2 separate regions of the Homo sapiens genome follow, and region 2 is linked to region 1. A link means that fine-mapping ties the variant in region 1 to the plasma level of a protein whose gene starts in the linked region. Region 1 holds a variant in brackets. A gene starts in the other region. All regions are shown on their forward strands.

Region 1 (5,374 bases):
ACATTGTCCCACAGTTCTTGGGTGTTCTGTTCTATTTTCTTTTTTTTTATTCCTTGAATTTCAGTTTGGGTAATTTCTATGAACCCATTTTCAAAGTACTGATTTTTTTTTTCTCAGCTGTATGGCATCTACTGATGACCCTGCCTAATACATTCTTCTTCTCTTTTACTCTGTTTCAAAATTTGCTAATATTTCCATTTGACTCTTCGTATAGTTTCTATCTTTCTGCTGAAATTCCCCATCTGTTTATGTATGTTGTCTACCTTTTCCACTAGAGCCTTTAACATGTTAAATATGGTTGTAATTAATGGTTTGATTTTAAAATTCCCTATTTGATAGTACCAACATCTGAATCATCTTTTAGCAGTTTCTATTGCTTGCATTGTCTGTTGACAGGATTTTTAAACCTTGCTTTTCTGTGTTGGCTCATTGTTTTTATTGAATTCTGGACATTATATGTGGGACAGTAGGAACTGAGGTAAATTGCATTTATGATTAGAAATGAGAACCCGTCTTATTCTGGTAAGCTCTTAGTGTGGGCCAATCTAGTCAAGAGTTGAGCTGGGTTCGGGTTTTATTATTGCCATAGTTACCTTCAAATTCTTCTAGTGTTATCTTGTGCTTGGGTGGAGGCAGCATTTCAGTAGACCAAGAGCCGCCGGTACTCCTGGATGGTATTTTCTCAATTTTCCTGCACTACCCCAACTTTAGGACTTTCTAAAGTATGTGCCTGCACCTCAGAGATTCTCTCTTCAGTGGCAGAGTACTTTTGCTTCTTATTCAGTACTTGCTAGCCTGGGAGGTAGGGCAGAGATTTATCCATTGTGAAATTGCCTTTGCAGAATATATATATATAAATAAGGAGAGAAATCTGGCTGGGCGTGGTGGCTCATGTTTGTAATCCCAGCACTTTGGGAAGCTGAGGCAGGTGGATCACCTGAGGTCAGAAGTTCGAGACCAGCCTGGCCAAGATGGTGAAATCCAGTCTCTACTAAAACTACAAAATTAGCTGGGAGTGGCGGCAGGCGCCTGTAATCCCAGTTACTTGGGAGGCTGAGGCAGGTGGAGAATTGCTTGAACCAGGGAGGCAGAGTTTGCAGTGAGCCAAGATCCCACCACTGCACTCCAGCCTGGGTGACAGAGCAAGACTCCATCTCAATAAATAAATAAATAAATAAATAAAAATAAAAAATAAACGAATAAAGAGAGAAATCTAACATGACTGACTCCATCCTGCTTCTAACCCACAGGCGAGTTTTTTTTTTCTTATTCTAGCATGGAGGTCAAAATAGCTATGAGTGACGTTTATAGTTAAACTTTGAGTCAAGGGAAACTGAACTCCCTCCTTGTTCAAGATTGAAACTGCATTCATAAGACAAGGTTAAAATACGGTAGGGACTTTAACTTTGCTGAAGAATAGACTCAGTTAAACAATGACCTGCCATTGCTTAGTGTGTCTTCCTCACTTCCTTGCTTTCCATGTGTCCTTACAGTAGCATGTTGCTTACTGCACCAGAGTCACGTAACCGGGGATTGCAAAATTTATAACTTCCCCAACTACTCCTATAGATAACATCACTATTGTGAACCCTGAAGAACGAGTCTTCGAGGTATTTTTCAGATTCAACATTTCAGTAGACCAAGAGACGCCACTAGGTCCTGAGATCCACCCACTCCTGGGAACTGACTTGGCTGCGTGAAGACAGCTTTAGACACCCCTGTAATTTCATCCCCAGCCAATCGATTGTTCCAGTTTCCAAGCCTCCTGCCCACCAAAGTACCCATGAAAAACCCTAGTCTCTGAATTGTCAGGGAGATGTGTTTGAGAAATTGCTGCTTGCTCTCTTCACATGGCTGGCCCTGTGATTATTAAACTCTTTCTTTGCTGCAATAGCCGCTGTTCTTGTTGATTTTTTCAGGGCAGTGGCTAAGAAGAACGTGTGGGGCTGTGACAGCTGTTCTAGTCCCGCCTCAGTTTTAGTCGGGCCTTCTGTCCCTGGATCTTGAGGATAGGGCTTTTTCAGTGATCCTAGATCTCACTCA[A/G]TGGTAGAAGACCTGTAATCATCTAGGCTTGGGATGGTTTCCAGCCCCTTCCCCAAGGGTAGAGAGTTGTTTTTTGTTGTTGTTGTTGTTGTTGTTTTTTCCTGTTCCTTTCCTCCAGGTGTAATGGGCTCTTTTCCTCTGCTCTGTGCCCTGGGCCCTTATTCTAGTGATTTAAGACATTTGTTCCTTAGAAAAAAGGATTCAGGTGGGCTTCATGCCTTTCCCAGAATGATGGCTGCTCCATTACCTAGGTATGTATTCCCTGGCCACAAGCTTTTCATGAGCTCTGGTGGAGGCCCATGAAGATGCTTCAAATGCGTAGGAATGGCCCTTGTATCATGAGCTCTCAGTTCTTGGCCACATCTGGCTTTCAGCGATTTATTAAAAATTTTAGCTGAATTCTTCTAACCCATTTGAATGGTAGCCCTGCCTTCCTTCCACGCTGTCTTACAGGTGAGCCTGTGCTCATATCCTAGCCCTCTTTAGAAACACCTGTCTTTTCTTAGATTTCAGGGTACTTGGTTGCCTCACTACCTCAGCACTCTGACGGGTTCAAGAAAAGTTATCACTTTGTGTATTATCTGTTTTTTTTCAGGTGTTTCTAATTAATACAGGTTTTTTTGGGGGGGTGTTTCTAATGAAAACATTTTAATGAGGCTGGTTTTCACAGCTGTTTTTATACCACAAATCAAAATGGCCAAGTCCAAAATGAAAAATCACCAGAATGGCAGGGCATAATGAATTTAAGCACAGAAATTAGATGAAGTTATCTGTTTCTCACATGACTTGATAATCTAAAAAGCAGAAAGTAAAATGGTATGTTTTAAAAGTTATCATCAAAAGTGTCCTTGAGGTCGGCACTGACTGTGTCCTGATGGCCATGCAGGCAGGAGTTGTGCTATGTAGGTAGGCTCTGCTATTTGCTCTTCACACGTCTGGTTAGTTTACAATCTCTCCTTGTTCTAAGTTTTCACCAAAGCCTGATACTGGCTTTTGTTTCCCTTGAGGCTATGTTGTTTCTCATATAAACATGATTTCCATTTTATGACTGTCCTAACCCTTCATGGTGCAAGCCTGTTTCTCTGAGCTACTATATTCTTCATATATTTATGTTATTACTTCTTACTATTCAGAAGTACCTTAATATTCAGAACTACCCTTCAAATTGGAGGGCTCTTTTCTGACCATATTCTCAGCTGTTGGACAGGGGACAGGGACCGATCATGCTGGGTGGTTGGAAAAGCCTATGGGAGGCCAAGTAGGGGAGACCTACTGCCAGGACTATCACTCCAAGCTCGATTCTTGGGCCTTCCACCTTCACATTCTAGAGGAAAGCATATTGCCACTCATCCAAGTTGTGTGCTGTGATTGCTAGTGAAATCTGATCAGCTCCGGGGGCTCTCAGCTCTTGGCTGTCAATGCAGGGTGATAGTGGGCTACAGGGGGAGGAGGTAAAGAAGAGAGATTATGCAGATATGTCTGAAATCACAATCTTTCTGATTAGATATTTTGGCTCTATAATCAATTGTTTCTTCTAACACTCACACTTTTCCTCAATTTTTATTTATTTATTTATTTATTTATTTTGAGACTGAGTCGCTTACTCTGTCACCCAGGCAGGAGTGCAATGGCGTGATCTCGGCTCACTACAACCTCCACCTCCCGGGTTCAAGCAATTCTCCTGTCTCAGCCTTCCAAATAGTTGGGATTACAGGCACGTGCCACAACCCCTGGCTAATTTTTTGTATTTTTAGTAGAGATGGGGTTTCACCATGTTTGCCAGGCTGGTCTCAAACTCCTGAGCTGAGGTGATCCACCTGCCTCGGCCTCCCAAAGTGCTGGGATTACAGGCATCAGGCATCGTGCCCAGCCTCAATTTTTAATTCTACGACTTTCTGCTCTAATTCAGGTGAAGCACAGGATAGGTTTGTATTGTTTTTATATCTGTCTCCTGCAAATATCCTATCTTTCCCATTGTAATGAGGGTTCCTCAGGACAGAGACCACTGTTCTTCTCATTTCTTCATTTCTTCCTCCCATCCATCCCCACCCCATCTTTCTTACCTAGCAGAGTCAACATTGGGTTAGAGCACTGCATATGGGTTGAGTAAATCAGTCACTAGTTGATCCCCATGAGTTATTGCTTTCCTGCTCAGAATTTGTTGCTATTGCCACTCTCAGTATCATTTCCCTCCAGTGATTCCTGAAGACCTCATTTTACTTCTGTAATTCTGCCAGGGACCAAGTTAACTGCAGCCTGCTCTTCTGCTCCAGTCACAGTAAACTCTTCTCCTAGGGTCTCTACTGAGACTGGAGGCCACAGGAAAGAACAGATGCTGAGCAGGAACCTCCACTGTCCTCTCGTACAAAATACTTTTCCCAGTTTCTAGAACGATAAACCGCGACCCGATTGAAGGGCTTTTCCATAAGACTACTCAACCAGCAGCAATACTTACCTTCATATTTGCAACTTTACTGAAATACCTTGGTCAGAGGAGATCTCCTTTTAATTTTTATTGTGTATTTATTTAGTAGAGGCAGAGATCTCCTTTATTTACATTCCAATCACTTTTAGGATCTGTCCTGCCTTATCAATCTGCCAATAAATGCACAAAGAGAAATGGATGATGGGAACTTGATGGTGGCAAGATTTGTTTCTTTTTTCTTTTTTCTTTTTTCTTTTTTGACAGAGTCTTGCTTTGCTGCCCAGGCTGGAGTGCAGTGGCATGATCTTGGCTCACTGCAACCTCCACCTCCTGGGTTCAAGCAATTCTCCTGCCTCAGCCTCCCAAGTAGCTGCGATTACAGGTGTGTGACACCACAGCTGGCTAATTTTTACATTTTTAGTAGAGATGGGGTTTTACTATGCTGGTCAGACTGGTCTCGAACTCCTGACTTCAAGTGATCTGGCTGCCTCAGCCTCCCAAAGTGTTGGGATTACAGGCGTGAGCCACCATGCCTGGCTGACACGATTTGTTTCAAACTGGCCCTGGACCCGGCACCCTCCCTTCTGCTTCTGACTCCTCACACATCAGTCCTTCTTCTTTGGATACCTGATTAATGGACATTTCCGGTTCTCGACCCTTCTGCTTTCTCTCCAGGGGATGGCTTACATCTTCCTTCCTGGCTAGCACCTTTTTAGGGTGGCACTTACAGTAAGCTATCTCTTTGTCCTCACCCTTCTGTGTGTTGCCCCAGAGATGAGCCTGCCCAGGGGTTACCTAAGATCTCAACTCTCTTCTGTCCCTGACAGGTTGTGGCAGACTGGGCACCCTCATACTGAAAATCATCATTGAAGAGAGAGTAGAATCTGGAGCTTCATAGAGGTGGAA
Region 2 (5,374 bases), not on the chromosome of region 1:
AGGCTGGAGCGCAGTGGTGCGATCATAGCTTACCTCAGCCTCGAACTCTTGGGCTCATGCATTCCTCCTGCTTCAGCCTCCTGAGTAGCTGGGAATACAGGTGTGCACCACCACATCTGGTCAATTTTTAAATTTTTTGTAGAGATGGAGTCTCACTATGTTGTCCATTCTGGTTTTGAACTTCTGGCCTGGAACCTTCCATCGATCCTCCCATCTCTGCAAGCCTAGACATTTAACATGGTCTAGAAGGCCTCCATGAGCTCCATCTCACCTCTTTTTTGCTCCTTCCGCTCCGGACCTTTACAAGTTGTGGCCATTCCAAACTCCTTTCACTTCTGATTATCTCATGTTCTCTCTCACCTCCCCGCCCATGCAATGAGGTTCCTCCCCAACTAGATTCTTATTCCTCTTAGATTCTCAGAGAAGCCTTCCCTGAAAGAAGCCGTCTCCCATCTCCCAGATTGGGTTAGGCTCCTCCTGTGTGCTGACTTCATTGTCTCTCTCCAACATTGCTTAGAACGCTAAGTTGCAACTTTATGTCTAATTGATTGCTCCACTAGTCCATAAAATCTAGGAGGAAAGGGCTGTATCCTTAGCCCTTGACACATGGCCTTGTACATCTTAAGTTTGCATATGAACCGCTTTATTTACCTGGGATATTATCTTACTTAATCCCCAAGACAACCCTATACGTTGTGCATGATTATTCCAATGGTCATTACTGTTATTTTAAATAGAGATGGGGGCTCACTATGTTGCCCAGGCTGGTCTTAAACTCCTGGGCTCAGGTGTTCCTCCCACCTTGGCCTCCTAAAGTGTTAGGATTACAGGCATCAGCCACCATGCCTAGTCGATTATGCCCCTTTTAATGGATGAGCAAAGAGTCGAGGTTCCACTGGTTTTCCACTGCAGTGTCTCTGCTGAAGGATTAAAAAAAAAAAAATCACAGGGCTGTGCTGGACTCCTGGGACTTCCAGAGGACAAGTCCCTCTCTTCAGTGAGGCTGACCTACACAGAGCCAGCCCTCCTTCCCCTCCCAGCCACAGCTGTGTGTTGGAAAGCTAGAGGCCTGGGCCCCTAATAAAGAGCAGACCTCCCAATCTCCTCGTTCCTTCCCCCTCCCCTCATATGGTTTTTCAAATTAAAAGCAACTAAAACCAAAGACCTAAGGAGCAGGAGAGGGCAGAGGCACAACAACATCCCTAAACTGAGGAAGGGGGCTCTCTAGCGAGGGAGGGGGTATCCAAAAGCCAGATCCAGAGGGTTCCAGTCCTACCAGTCTGTCCCAGGCTCTAAGGAGTGTATGGCCCACCGGGCTGGGCTGGACCAGGAAACAAGCTCTTGTCCTCAGGTCTGTAAACAGGCTGCGTTGTTAGGAACCCTCTGCTTCTACTTCCTGAAGAGCAAGCCCCCCAAACCCAGAAGAGAGGCTGCACCTTGAGATCCAGCCAGCAAGGTGGGTGCGGAGTCCTGGGGAGGGAACTTTCACCTCAAGCTGCACAGACCCATCTCGATCTTTTTAGAGAATTCCTCCTTTTCCAGGACTAGTGCCGTTCTGAATTCTGAGCGTGCAAAGAGACTCCTTAGAGCTAGCTTCCGAGCCTCAGCTGGGGCAGACCAGAGGCCAGGGCGTCTCTCTGTCTGCGGGGACCCCCCACATCTGTGCGTCACCTCCACCACCTCCGGGCAAAGGACCCTTCCTCGCTGGACCCAGGGAGGCGGCTATTCCAGATGCAGCCAAGGGTTAAAGGGGGTGGGAGAAGGAGCAGTTAGCACCGTTTTCTTTTGCAAACCACCAAACGGGCCCTTCATTTTCAAATTGTGAAGCCAGAAACATCCCCCGTTCCCTTGCCCCGCCCATCACCATTTGAAAAAAAGAATTCACAAGTTTAAACGTGATTTTCACAACTAACGGCTTTGATAACTGTTAAATTCGTACGGCTTCTAGGGCAAACGGACCTGAATTCTTCAAGGAAAGTAGAATTGGCGGTGGAGCTGGGGGGCAGAGGAGGAGAAGACACAAAAAGCCAACTCAGTGGGAAGCGCCCTCAAAGCCAAAGGTGTGGCGCTCGGAGCTGTGGCCGCCCTCGCCCGGGAGTCGGGGCCAGGAGAACGGGCCCTGGAGGCAGGGCAGGGCACGGCGAGATTTTGCTTTTGTTTTTAGTGACCATTTTGATCTGGTTGTAAAAAGTTTACGAGGCCTTCTTTTTGAAAGTCAGCTAATCGACTGCACCTTTTTATACCCTTGCCCTCAATTTCATGTCGCCTGCTGGCCTAGACGCGCAAGGCGGAGGACAGAACTGTCACAGTCCCTACCCTTTTCTCCCAACTTCTCGGCCCGGCTCAATTCGGGAGTTGGGCCTCCTTCCTCTCGGCTCGCAGCCTCCCCGACTCCCACTTTGGGGAGAAAACCCACATTCTTAACCCCTTGATAATCCCTCAAGGAAAAAACAAAACAAAAAACCCCAAGAGGTTGAAAATTAGAATCCGGGCGCGGGTTGAGATCTGCGCAGAGCTGCCCAGGCCAGTGCATGTCGCTCCTCTCCTCCGGGTACATATGGTGGCCTGGTCCCCTCCCCCCACCCCCCACACGGTGCCCAGTGAGAAGCACAAGAAGGGGAGAAAAGACCCGCAGCCCGCCTCAGGAGGGCAAGGTTTCTAGCCCCCTGCGGCTCCGGGACCACCCAGGACCCGGGGCGTCGTGGGACCGATCTCGAAGGATCTTAGAACGACACTGGGAGAGCGCGGCAAGAACTAGCCCCACCTTCCCCCGACGCCCCGGACTGACTGCCGGGCGCAGACCCGACTTCTCCCGAACCAGCCTCGGACCAGCCTTAGAAGGCGGAAAACAGGATTCAAACCCGCCTATGAGCAGTGGTAGGGGCGGGGGCTGTGGGGGCAGGACTCGGTTTAAGGAACCAACCGCCTCGGTTCGAGGGCCTCCTGTCCGGAGGTTGCTCCTGACCACTGGGTTTATTTTGCTTTTGCAGAGGAGGCAGATGTTGACCTCTCTTCTTTGCACAGTCTCTCCGCAAAATTTTCCCCCAACCATTTGCTTTCTTGCGCCACCCCCCACCGGGGCACTATCCCTGGAGTCAGCTCCTCAGGCCTTTAAACCTTCCAGAATGTCACACATGGAAACCTTTAGCAAATGTTTGTTAATGATCATAACAAAGGCATCATTCAAATTAGGCAGGTAATTACTACCAGAAGGACAACTGGGTGCTCGCTTGCTCATCCATTGCTTTCTGCTTTAAACTCCCGAGGAGTCGCTGCCTGGAGACACTCCCGCCCGGACTGCTTCTCGGGCCCCATTAAACGGCTCTGAAATGAACTGTGAAGTTACCATTTGTGGGCGGAGAGCGCTGGGGCCCTGCGGACGGAAGACCCTGGCTTGACCGGACTAACAGTGTCGCCGAAGCAAAGCAGCCCCTCTGGGTAGGCTGTCTGTCTCGCCTCCTACCCTCTGGGGCAACTAGCCTAAAAACCCGGTTCTCAACTTAACAGCATGTGGCCCAGCACCCGCTTTTGCCTTTTATTCCGCACTCTGATTTTTGGGGGGATCGTTTGTTCCCGCTCATTTTCTACAAACATTACGGTATCCTGTTAGCATTCCGAACAAGGGGCTGTTCATATATTTGCCTTCAATGATTTCCTGAAGGGACATGTGGAAGTAATAGCGAGCGGTGCAGTCACCCAAGCTGAAGATGCACGAGAGCGGGTCGCGTAGAAGAACTGCGGCAATGGGACCCCCAGCGCAGCCCCAGGCGCCCTGTTTTCGAGGCTGACATCCCAAGATCCTGTCCTGGTTAGGCACAGCACCGCGCCCGTTGGAGTACTTCTCTGTGACTCTCCCCTGTCCACTGCACTGTGTCCACCCTCCTGGTGAAGGAGGAGACGGCTGTTGGACATGCCAGTCCCAACCTGGCCACTTTGGCCATTTTCAGAGTGCGTGTGTTGGGGTGGGGTTGAGGGAGAAGGATGAAGGATGACCCCCAACCCCAACAGGAGAATTCAAAAATCAGAGAGCGATGAAGGTGAACGCGCTCCCCTCCCCCGCTGTCGCTGGGAAGCCCCACTCTGCCCAGGTCTGGTTCCTGGAGCATCAGCGCCCCCTTTCCCTCGCCGGCAGGATCGTTTCCTCCCGACACTGGCCTCTCGCCTTGGGCGCAGGGTTTGGGGCTCAGCTGTCAATTCCAAGGAATTCGTAGGGTTCGACCCACGCGGCGGGAGGGAACGGAGGGAGAATCAAAAGGCATCCTCCCCCACGACGCGGAGGCGGTGGTACGATTCCTCAAACGCCCAAGCTTGAGCTTTTTTTGTATGCGAGATAGAAGCCAGGGCAACCTCGCCCAGATAACCCCGAAAACAAAGGCACGACCAGATAAGTGACTTCAAGGGAGTAAAGGTCGTTCTATCGGAGAACGTTCCAAACCTACACAGACCCTCTTTTCTTTGTACCGTATTTCAGACCACCCAGTCTTGTACACACACACACACCACACAAAACAAAAACCCATCATTGTCATATTGGACTCAACAGTTTGCCCAATCCTATTAAATAACTAGCAACTATATAGCCCTTCCCCTAAAAGACCCCTAGTTCAAAACGGCGCAACCGCTTGGAGATTTCTCCCGAGGGCCCTATTTCTCGTTGGGCCGAGTTTGTAGAAGGGACATTTCTTGATTCTAGATTTATATTCTCTCTGGGTATTAAATGCAATTTTGTATGTTCCTTTTCTTCTTTTCAAAGAGAATACAAAACTATAGCAGTCTAAGAAAATAACCCCAAAATGGGGAGGCAAACTCATTCTGGAAATGATGGGCTGTTTGTAGTTTCACAAAACCTCTTTCCCGGCAGAGCACCAACACCTCCCCCTTCCACCACCCCCCATCCCATCTGGTCTGCTTCTCCCCGCCCCCCAGTTGTTGTCGAAGTCTGGGGGTTGGGACTGGACCCCCTGATTGCGTAAGAGCAAAAAGCGAAGGCGCAATCTGGACACTGGGAGATTCGGAGCGCAGGGAGTTTGAGAGAAACTTTTATTTTGAAGAGACCAAGGTTGAGGGGGGGCTTATTTCCTGACAGCTATTTACTTAGAGCAAATGATTAGTTTTAGAAGGATGGACTATAACATTGAATCAATTACAAAACGCGGTTTTTGAGCCCATTACTGTTGGAGCTACAGGGAGAGAAACAGAGGAGGAGACTGCAAGAGATCATTGGAGGCCGTGGGCACGCTCTTTACTCCATGTGTGGGACATTCATTGCGGAATAACATCGGAGGAGAAGGTAAGGGAAAAGAAAAAATGATTTTTTGTTTATAAGGGAAGTCCCTGATCAGACTCTGGGACTGGAGAAAGCGAAGTAACTTCA

Which allele goes with the higher level. Positions count from the first base shown, and alleles are read on the strand shown. Strength reflects both the effect of a copy and how common the allele is.
For the plasma level of the protein whose gene starts at base 5,168 in region 2, A is the low allele of the variant in region 1 and G is the other (moderate association).

What was found. PIP is the chance, under the fine-mapping model, that this variant and not a neighbour inherited with it causes the effect. The UK Biobank Pharma Proteomics Project read protein levels with antibody pairs (Olink). The fine-mapping took linkage between variants from a reference panel, not from the people measured, so its PIPs are less certain.
Region 2: PDGFRA starts here. The variant in region 1 is fine-mapped to the plasma level of the PDGFRA protein (UK Biobank, PIP above 0.99).

What each region holds. Positions count from the first base shown.
Region 1 is chr1:161,570,402-161,575,775 of GRCh38, forward strand. No RefSeq gene overlaps it. Among named protein-coding and RNA genes, the nearest start is that of FCGR3A, 23 kb to the left of the region's middle. The variant A/G (reference allele first, on the strand shown) is at 2,044.
Region 2 is chr4:54,224,126-54,229,499 of GRCh38, forward strand. It overlaps PDGFRA (platelet derived growth factor receptor alpha), which reads left to right and starts at 5,168. Exons shown (of 23, transcript NM_006206.6): 1 at 5,168-5,290. RefSeq lists enhancers at 1,159-1,986, 1,987-2,812, 3,641-4,466 and a silencer at 2,331-2,518.